Linked DNA regions of Homo sapiens: region 2 is linked to region 1. Evidence: fine-mapped expression QTL. A gene starts in region 1. The other region holds a variant in brackets. All regions are shown on one strand. Distances are from middle to middle.

The links. PIP is the estimated chance that this variant, and not a neighbour inherited with it, causes the effect.
Region 2: its variant is fine-mapped to the expression of TIMP3 in fibroblasts (GTEx, PIP 0.94).

The regions. Positions count from the first base shown.
Region 1 is chr22:32,798,720-32,804,088 of GRCh38, forward strand. It overlaps TIMP3 (TIMP metallopeptidase inhibitor 3), which reads left to right and starts at 2,986. Exons shown (of 5, transcript NM_000362.5): 1 at 2,986-3,403. The coding sequence starts at 3,283. The region is part of intron 6 of SYN3 (synapsin III); the gene reads right to left.
Region 2 is chr22:32,580,169-32,585,537 of GRCh38, forward strand. The region is part of intron 7 of SYN3 (synapsin III); the gene reads right to left. SYN3-AS1 (SYN3 antisense RNA 1) reads left to right here. Exons shown (of 4, transcript XR_001755503.2): 1 at 1-182; 2 at 3,709-4,218; 3 at 5,331-5,369. Among named protein-coding and RNA genes, the nearest start is that of SYN3-AS1, 7.9 kb to the left of the region's middle. The variant G/A (reference allele first, on the strand shown) is at 2,833.

The DNA.
Region 1 (5,369 bases):
CTCACTCCATCACCTAGGCTAGAGTGCAGTGGCATGATCTCAGCTCACTGCAAGCTCCGCCTCCCAGGTTCACGCCATTCTCCTGCCTCAGCCTCCCAAGTAACTGGGACTACAGGCGCCCACCACCACACCTGGCTAATTTTTTGTGTTGTTAGTACAGACGGGGTTTCACCATGTTAGCCAGGATGGTCTCGATCTCCTGACCTCGTGATCCGCCCACCTTGGCCTCTCAAAGTGCTGGGATTACAGGCGTGAGCCACCGCACCCAGCCTGCATCTTCATTCTTACTGTTAGCCTCAGGTTCACCCCACCTAGCTTATTAAGTGATGTTGAATAACCAATTCTTACATATTATTAGGCTCATGGACACCATGACATCCAGACTGATGGGTGCCTGCTGAAGGGGGTGACCCTAGCAGGAGGACTCCCCTACGCAAGGATTCATGGAGTTTGCTGTTTCTTTTCCTTAGGGTGAGAACCAAACTGCCTTCACACGGTGGGCAGAGGGGAACTGACTCAGGTTTGGAATAAGAGAGAACATCCCAACTGAAAAGCTCTTGGAATTCGCTGAACTTCAAGACACTGTGTGGACCAGCTTAGGATAGGGAGTGAGAAGAAATTAACCAAAAGGTAATTTCGTTACTTTTCAGCTGGAAAAAAGATCAGATTATACTTGTGCTTTCATAATTAAGTAGCTGCTGGAAAAAAACGCTTCAGATGCTTTCTATGAGAAAACTGCTGCTTGAAGTTCAGCAGAAGTTATCTACTTGATACTTATATTCCAGGCAAGGCCTTCCGTTGGAGAAAATATCGGCACTTTGGACAAAACTGAAATGTGAAAAGAAAGGGAAGAGAGGGCCTCTATCATGTAAGATGCTTATCCAAAGTGGATTTGGTCTGGAAAGTCTTCTAAAACCTTCCACATGACTGTGGAATAAGTCATGTGGGGCGCGGGGATAAGCGAATCTCTCAAATTCCACCACGTATGCCCTCATTCAACCTGGATCCTTAGAGTGGCCTCCAGGGCACTCTGCTCAGGACTCAGTCAGCTGTTGGCCACACCCATGCTCTCCAGTCTCCTGAGACCCTATTTGGTTCTGAGAGGGCTAAAAAGCAGTGTGGCTAAATATCCCAGGCCTCAAAGTATTCCTACTGTGGTTGGGGAAGCAATAGAATCATACCCCATAAAACAATGAAAACAGTGCTAGAAAAACATCGAGAGACAGAAACATCTCTACGAGTTAGGCCACAGTTAGAGTGAAGGCAGGGAAGGTTTTTAAAGCTGGGTGGAGGGGACAAGTCAAAAAGATGTGGAAACTGGTTTCCCTTTCCTATGGCTAAAGTGCTCAAAGGGGAAAAAGGAGTTTCAAAAATGTTCTTGGAAATACCATCTCTCACGAATTCTTCGGCCTCTGCTGTCCCAATGTCACTTGTCTGAGATGTAAACAGAGGAGTTCTGAGAAAGAAGCTGAACTTGCATTTCTCCCTGTTTCTATTTGTTCCAAACTTGTGGCATTTCTAACAGGATGAAGCGGAAGAGAAAGGGAAAGAGACAAAAGTGTAGAAAGATGGAAGATCCCAGCTGCAAATGGCCATTTGCAGTTAGATGGAACAGCTGCTGACGTTCAGGGAAATGCATGTCTCTCTTCAGATGGGAAGGAGCAGTGGAAAGGGGTGACGAGTTCCTGGCTGGCCACCAATCATCCCATCTTTCTGTGCCGGTTCCTCATCTGGAAAGTGGGAGTGATACTTGTGCTTGCTTTTCCTACCCACAAAGATTATTGTGAGAGCTATAATACGGTGAGATACAGAATCCTGCTTTTAAAAATACAAAGCAGAATCAAGATGTCAATAATAAGGATAGTAATTGTGTTAGTTATCTGCAATCATCTATTATAGCTAGTCGTCTAGGATCCTGGATCGTTCTCCTGGTTTTACTACAGTTTTGGATCAGCTCACCCCCAAATCCCTTGCTGAAGGGTGGAGCTCTGTCAGCCATGGGCAGGGAACCACTTCCTCTTGCCTTTCTACTTTCTGTCTTTCAAACATGCCCAGGGTCTTTGCACTTGCTGTTCCCCCTGCCTGGTACCTCTCTCCTGTGGCTTGCCCCAGAGCTGATCCTTGTCTTTGTCCACTTCTCAGCGAGGATGGCACTTCAGGGAGCCCTTCCCTTACTATCGCAGAGAGAGCAGGCCCTCCCCAGTCATGTCCAACCCAGAACTCTGTTTTGTTTTCTTCATAGCCCTAGCATCACAGAAAATCACCCTGTGCATTCATGGATGTCCACGGGGGCAAGGGCTTTGTGTTGCTTAACCCAGCATCCTGAACCGTGTTTGTTGAATGAATACAGAACCCCGTTTGCTCTGGGAGAGCACAGAAAACAGTCTTCTATCATATATCATAGCCAGCTGCAAACAGCAGATGGCTTCCCATATCCCAGAGAGTAAGAACCAGAGAGAGAGAGAAAGAGAGAGAGTTTGGGTCTTTCTCCTCTGTGCCTGCTCTCTCCAGAGAAACTGGAGGGGTAGCAGTTAGCATTCCCCCGCTGGTTCCACCAAGCACAGTCAAGGTCTCTAGGACATGGCCACCCCTCACCTGTGGAAGCGGTCCTGCTGGGGTGGGTGGGTGTTAGTTGGTTCTGGTTTGGGTCAGAGACACCCAGTGGCCCAGGTGGGCGTGGGGCCAGGGCGCAGACGAGAAGGGGCACGAGGGCTCCGCTCCGAGGACCCAGCGGCAAGCACCGGTCCCGGGCGCGCCCCAGCCCACCCACTCGCGTGCCCACGGCGGCATTATTCCCTATAAGGATCTGAACGATCCGGGGGCGGCCCCGCCCCGTTACCCCTTGCCCCCGGCCCCGCCCCCTTTTTGGAGGGCCGATGAGGTAATGCGGCTCTGCCATTGGTCTGAGGGGGCGGGCCCCAACAGCCCGAGGCGGGGTCCCCGGGGGCCCAGCGCTATATCACTCGGCCGCCCAGGCAGCGGCGCAGAGCGGGCAGCAGGCAGGCGGCGGGCGCTCAGACGGCTTCTCCTCCTCCTCTTGCTCCTCCAGCTCCTGCTCCTTCGCCGGGAGGCCGCCCGCCGAGTCCTGCGCCAGCGCCGAGGCAGCCTCGCTGCGCCCCATCCCGTCCCGCCGGGCACTCGGAGGGCAGCGCGCCGGAGGCCAAGGTTGCCCCGCACGGCCCGGCGGGCGAGCGAGCTCGGGCTGCAGCAGCCCCGCCGGCGGCGCGCACGGCAACTTTGGAGAGGCGAGCAGCAGCCCCGGCAGCGGCGGCAGCAGCGGCAATGACCCCTTGGCTCGGGCTCATCGTGCTCCTGGGCAGCTGGAGCCTGGGGGACTGGGGCGCCGAGGCGTGCACATGCTCGCCCAGCCACCCCCAGGACGCCTTCTGCAACTCCGACATCGGTAAGCGCTCCTGGTGCCCCGCCCGAGCCCCACGCTGCAGCCAGGACTGCAGCGCTGCTTAGGGAGGCAGGGCGAGCCCCACTCCTTTCCTCTGCCCCAGGAGAGGGGCAGACGGGGTTGGGGCGGAGTGGAGAAACTCGATGTCCTTGGGCGGGGGCGCTGGCATAGCTGAGAGGGGAAGATGCCCTGCAGAGGAAACTCACAGTGGCTGAGGGAGCCCCTGGCCGCCTTTGCTTTCCTAACTTAGGTCGTGAGGTTCCTACCGGTCCTTTTGACATCTGGAAAATGTCCCCATTCACTACTAACGGAGGAAGGGCTAGAAGAGAAGGGTGGGGAAAGGGTTCCCAAAACTTGGAATGCTAACTAAAGTGCTGGGAAATTGAATAGTTAAAAAAAAAAAAAAAAGTTGCCCGCCATGTGCACGGAAAGTTGCAGGAGAAACTTGGAGTACTCCGAGTCTGCATCATCTCCTGCGCCTATGAAATTCATTCTTTTCACTGAGACCCAACCCAGCTGCAGGCTTCCCAGGCAAGCGCTAACCGAGCTTCTGGGACTGCCAAGTTTGGGTGGATTTAAGGGGGAAAATGAGGAGAAAGCTGTGGCATTGACCCACGCCCTGGAGGCACTGTGTTTGAGAGTGTTGATAGCCAGCAGAAGGTGCGAGGGGTCACTCACCACATAGCTGTGAAAATTCACAGGAAGGCTATTTTTTTCCCCCTTGAATGTGTGTGGGGAGGGGGAGAATGGGTAGTGGAAAACAGATTTGTCACCAAAAGAACAAACCTGCCAAGGGTCACATCACGGTGACAGTTCCAGACTGGACTTAGTGTCTTGAGTAGAGAGACCCTGTAAAGAGACCTCCTACTCCTTAGTGTGTATGGAGGGCCCCGAGAGCATCCTGGGAGGCTTGTCTGGGAGTGTTTGGGACACTTGTGTTTGGATGGCTAAAGGTGGAGTGGCATCTGGGAAACATCTCTCTCCTCCTTTCCAGCCCATAAAGCGTGCAAGTCCAGTGGCTCTGCTGGGAGAGTGTGTGTGTGTGCACTGGGCTGGGCTGGGCGGTGGGGTGGGACAGCCTTGCCGCCCTCTGCCTGTGTCGATTCAGAGGTGAAGAATGGAGCGTGTGTGTTTTAAGTACAGTCATAAAGGAGAAGGAAATTTTCCACTGAGTCTTGGGTGAGGGACTCTACCAGCGTGTTGTGGTGAGGAGGGGGAGGAGGTAGGAGCTTGGCAGGGGAGGCAGTGAGGGCCGGGAGGGGCACTGCTGGTGGGCTGGGCTGAGCCTAGAGGTCAGAGTGGGGGTGTGGTGACCAGAATGTCAGTGCAGTTGGCAGCTGAGGGTGTTTGTGTGACCTGAGGTCACCCTTGTAAGAGGCTCCCTGGGGCCTGCATGGTACATCCTCCCCTCTCCTGGGGGAACCCAGCTGGCCCAGGATTTGTGGATTGCTTAGAAAGATCCTTTTGGGCAGCCTGAAGACTGGGGAGGGTTTTCCTCCCTCCTCCACCTCCACCCACATTCCACTTACCCTTTCCCTCCTCATCCCAGTTGGTAACATTCCCACCTGATTAGTGTGGGGAGTTGCTGCTGCAGCTGAGTTCTGGTTTTGCCCAGCAGGATCACACACGTGCGGCCAGGAGGCTGGCAGGTGGAATCAGGGTGTGCAGGGGTGCAGCCCAAGTCCTTTTCTGCTGGAAAATGGGCTGGGTGACTTCACTTGCGTTTTTTTGGTATGTAGTGGGAGTAGGTCCCCATTCTTCCCCCTTGCCCTTTGCTTTGGGGTTTCTACCCTAAAAATTGACCACGGAAAAGTGAAAACAAGCATGAGTAGATCCTGCTTCCAATGGGGGCCTTCCCGTCTGCTTACTGCTTAGGTTTCCTGCGGTGGGTCTGAGCAATGCAGAAAGTTTCTTACAATTTCTCTGGATTGAAACAAGAAATAGCTCCCTCGCTCCTCTTCATAAATTT
Region 2 (5,369 bases), 220 kb before region 1:
AGATGACCTAGATCATGCGTCAACAAACTATGGCCTGAGGGCCAAAGCCAGCGCACCACCCGTTTTTGTACAGCCCATGGGTTAAGAAGAGTTTTCAAAATTTTAAACAGCAGTCTCCCCTTATCCATGGTTTCACCTTCTGTGGTTTCAGTTACTTGCAGTCAACCATGGCCCAAAAATAGGTGAGTACTATACAGCAGGACATATTGAGAGGGAGAGACCACATTCACATGACTTCTGTGACAGTAGATTGCTATAATTGTCTGATTTTATTATTATTTATTATTATTTCTCTCTTACTGTGCCTAAATTTATAAATTAAACTATATCACAGTTGTGTATGTATAGGAAAACCCAGTAAATGTAGGGTTTGGTACTGTTCATGGTTTCAGGCTTCCACCGGGAGTCTTGGAATGTATCCTTTGCCAATAAGGGGGAGCTACTGTAGTCGGGAAAAAAAATCAAAGAACAATATTATTCGAAGTGGGAACATGATATGAAATTCAAATTTCAGTGTCCATGAGTAGAGTTCCAGTGGAAGATAGCACTGCCCATTCATTTACGTATTGTCTGTGGTTGCTTTCCCACTACAAGAGCTGACTGAGTAGCTTCAGCAGAGACCATGTGCCCTGCAAAGCCTCAAATAGGTAGCATCTGGCTCTGTGCAGAAAACTTTGATGACCCTTGCCTAGATCATGGTCTAGCAGCATTGATATCACCTGGGAGCTTGTTAGAAATTCAGAACCCCAGGCAGGCGGGACTGCAGATCTAGTGAATGAGAGCCTGCATTTTAACAAGATCCCCTGGGTGATCTGTGTGCACAGTCAGGCGCTAGAGGAAGCAAATCAACATCTCTTAAGTATCTACAATTTTTTAAGAGTGCGTTACCTCAATCAGTCTTTAGGTTAATCCCTTTTCCACTAGGGACATTTACTGGCCCTGTTTTGTTTTTATTTTTTGAGACTGAGTCTCGCTCTGCCACTCAGGCTGGAGTGCAGTGGTGCAATCTCGGCTCACTGCAACCTCTGCCTCCCAGGTTCAAATAATTCTTGTGCTTCAGCTTCCTGAGCAGCTGAGACTACAGGCGCCCACCACCACGCCCAGCTAATTTTTATGTTTTTAGCAGAGACGGGTTTCGCCATGTTGGCCAGGCTGGTCTCGAACTCCTGACCTCAGGTGATCGGCCCGCCTTGGCATCCCAAAGTGCTGGGATTATAGTAGGCATGAGCCGTAGCTCCCGGCCAACTGGGGCTATTTTACAGGTGAGAAAAACAAAGATCGCACGTCAAGTGCTCGCCCAAGGTTATATAATTAGGAATTGGCTGAGTCAGATTTAAACTCTTAGGTCCTTTGTACATCCTGTGGCCTTAACCATTAAGCTCAATGGTCCCCTATACAGAGAGGGTAAGGCCAAATTCAGTGTCTTCTGTCTGAAGCTGGAGGCACTAAACTGGCTCCCTAAGATACCCTAAGTGGGTGGCTGTTTTATTTGACGTATACAGTGTTTCAAAAGATTTTTAAATTAGTTGCCAATATTTAAAAATAAGGAGTCTGGATATTGGAGACCCCAGATAATTGATTCTTTTTTTCTTTTTCTTTTTCTTTTCTTTTCTTTCTTTCTTTCTTTTTTTTTTTTTTTTTTTTTTGAGACAGAGTCTCACTCTGTGGCCCAGGTTGGAGTGCGGTGGTGTGATGACAGCTCACTGCAACCTCCGCTTCCTGAAGAATTGAAGCAATTCTTCTGCCTTGGTCTCCCAAGTAGCTGGGACTACAGGCGTGCACCACCAAACCCGGATAATTTTTATATTTTTAGTAGAGATGGGTTTTCACCATGTTGGCCAGGCTGGTCTTGAACTCCTGACCTTGTGATCCACCCATCTCGGCCTCCCAAAATGCTGGGATTATAGGCGTGAGCTACCACACCCGGCCTGAGAATTGATTGTTATAAAAGAATCTGGAAATCAGGCTTCCCTGGCTGGGGCTAAGTTGTGACTTCTCTTGCAGGATGGCCTCGAACTCCCAGCCTGGGCTTCTGACTCATGGTAATGCCTGGTCCCTTGGGCATCTGAGTTTGCATCCCTTGGTCAAAACCAGTGGTTATGCAGAACAGCCTGCAAATCACCTGTGCATTTTGTTAAAATGTAGATTCAGAGTTGGCAGGTCTGGAAACAGGTCTGCATTCTCCCTTTTTTTTTTTTTGAGACCGGGTCTCACTCTGTTGCCCAGGCTGGAGTGCAGTGGTGTGATCACAGCTCACTGCAGCCTCGACTTCCCAGGCTCTAGTGATCCCCCTACCTCAGCCTCCCAAGTAGCTGGGACCACAGGCACATGCTACCACAACCAGCTAATTTTTATTTATTTATTTATTTAATTTTTGTAGAGACGGGCTGGGGGTGGGGGTGGGTCTCACCATGCTGCTTAGGTTGGTCTTGAACTCCTAGACTCAAGTGATTCTCCCATCTCAGCCTCCTGAAAACTTCTGGGATTACAGGTGTGAGCCACTGTGCCCAGCCTATGTTCTGCATTTTTAAGGGGCTCCCAGGTGATACGGATGCTGCCAGTACTTCCATAGGGCACACTGAGCAGCAAGGCTACCGAAGAGCTCAGGACCGTCTGACTTCAGGGCCCATTGCCCAGATCATCTGAATCGGTGCCCTTGGCTGCTGATCCATTATCTGTTAGAGTGGCCAGGGGCCTCTAGGTCCTTCTCTTCAGCTGTTAGCAGCCTCCTCCATCGACCTGCTGAGTTGTATAGCTACCACTCTTTTCTAGGAGTGTCATGACGTGAACAAGGCTGAGCAGCATTCACTGGCCCATCACAGTGCCTCCTTT[G/A]TCTTCCAGCTTCACCCCTGGAGGACAGAGCTATTGGTATGGAGGTCTCCTGGGGGTGAAGACCAAGAGTCAAGCAAGAGATCAGGGTCTGCCGCTAGTGTCCTATTGATCTGGAGGCTTAATGGAGGCAGATGTTTGTATTTTAGAAAGCTGCTTCCCCTACCCCCAACACATGGACAGACACACACCCCAAAATGTAACAAACCCATTGTCTGCATCATCTGTGGTCTTCCTGGAAAACAAGCCTGCCATGGCCACCTGTCGGCAGTGATGCCAACTGCTCCCCGGTACAGCTATTTCCAAGATTCCAGAGATGTGGCTGGTTTCACTTCCAGGAAGCTTGCTGGAAGACTGCCCTGTGCCCCACGCCTCAGTAGGGCAGGGGGCCTCCCCTGGTTTTAGGATCATGCTTCTCCTGCCTGCTGATGGTAAGAATGGGCTGTGCCTGAGCGTTTTGGCTAGAGAAGCCCTCAGCAGACATATAGGCTGTGTTCCAAAAGGCCTGGCAGAACTCTCTGGAGTCTTACCTCCCCTGGCATGGATGCCAGAATCAGTGGGAAGAACGTGTGCGTGTGATATGCAGCCCTGTGCAAATCATTTCTCCTCTTTGATCTCTGCTTATCTCATCTGTAAAATGAGTATCATTGAAACGGTCCTCACAGGGATAACAAAAATTACATCCTGGGTCCTGTGCAGAAATATAGTTCTATTAAGCACTAATCAGGCCACACTTTGGCCCACTTCCTTGTAACTGAGAGTCAGGTAGCACTAGATACTGACCATCTGCATCCTCATTGTTCCTATACCTAGGATTTCTAACCTTAGAATCATAGGTTTTTGTTTACGAATTGATTTATATCCCCATTGTTCCTATAGCTACGATCAGTGACCATGGACTCATAAGGCTTTTGTTTAAGAATTGCCTAAGATGTTCTTCAGATCCTGAATTCCAGCAGGAAAGCTAATGCCAACCAGTTTGAAAACAACCACAGAGGAATCGAATCAGCACGAGAATGCAGTTTCTTCATTTCCCTGTCCCATGACTTTACTCTGCACTCTTTGACCAATCAATAATCCTGGACCTTGGCCCACTTCAAACCCCTTGAAATCTCTAGCTCCAACTCCCTGGAGGGGTGGATTTGAGGTTTCCTCCTGTTTCCTTGTTTGGCTGCCGTATGATTATTAAACTCTTTCTTTGCTGCAATCCCTGTTGCCTTGGTTTATTGACTTACTGTGCATCGGGCAAACAAACCTATTATGATGACATCATGACGCAATATCCACCTCAAAGGACTGCTGGGAGCCTCAAAAATTTACAAATTTGTGAATTGTATGTGACTGTCTGATGCCGGGGAGCAGCAAGGAGCTTTTGGTGATTGGAGTGCGGTAAATTATAATGTTCCCCACCCCACCGGGTGATGTGTGCCCCACTTCTGTCTGAGGGTCTCTTAAGGGGAAGAATTCTCTGGCCTTTGTTAGATGCAGTGTCAGGATGGCTCAACAGACATGACCAGGAAAACAGAGAAAAGAAAAAAGGAAATCTTATTGCTTTTCAATGTCTGTCAGTTAAAAAAAATTGATATTCTTTGTTTTTCATGGAGGGGTCCTCTGCATCAGTGCTCATAAGAACAGACAATTTATTTCTTCCAAATGAGTCTGTTCCTGGGCCTCTGTCCCTCTTGACAAAATGGGGCTTATAGATGGTGTACACTGTCTTTAAAACACAGTGCCAGAGGGTGGTATTCTTTCTTTCTTTTTGTTTAAATCATTCTTTTGAAATGAATGTTCTTGGTTTTGGCTTCAGGCCTGGTGTGAGATCAGTTGACCAAAACACAAGAGCAGTTCATATGCAAAAGGTCAGTGCTGGTCTCAAAGGTACTGACATGTTTCTTGGGTGGGGCCTTGTGAAATTCTTTATAAATAAACTCTCTAATTAAGTTGGCTCCTTGCCTTGTACTGGGAAGAGATGATTACACCAGGGTGTTCCTGAGGGTCCCTGGCAGCAAGCAGAACAGGGCTGTCAATCTCAGTCCAAATTCTGCTTCACCACTTACCTGTGACCTTGGGCAGAATGACTCTTGGCACCTCTATAAAACAGGGATCAGAAATACCTCTGAAATACCTCTGAAGGTTAGAGGAGATGCACAAGGCACTCATCGTGGTGTACGGGCACTTGGGAATTGTTACTATCCTCCTTCTCTTTCCTTATTCATCCATGTAATCTGCTCTGAGCTATCCCAGAGAAGCAGAGGCCCAGGGAAGTTAAGAAATTTGCTGAAGGTCACAATGCTGGCAAACAGTTGAGCCAAGCTCAGAACCCCAGCATCAGTTGGTTTTCCCCAGCGCCAGTCTAAGCCCAAAGCCCATACTCTCTTTTGCTTATCTCCCCATCTCCTATTTCTATGAAGCTTTAGACTTTCTAATGCACTTTTATTCACTAGCTCTCCCAAGTGATTGGGTGAGGAAAATCATGAAATAAGGGAAAATTGCATTTACAGGTTTAAGTGACTGGCACTGGTGGTTACTGCTGGCCCCAG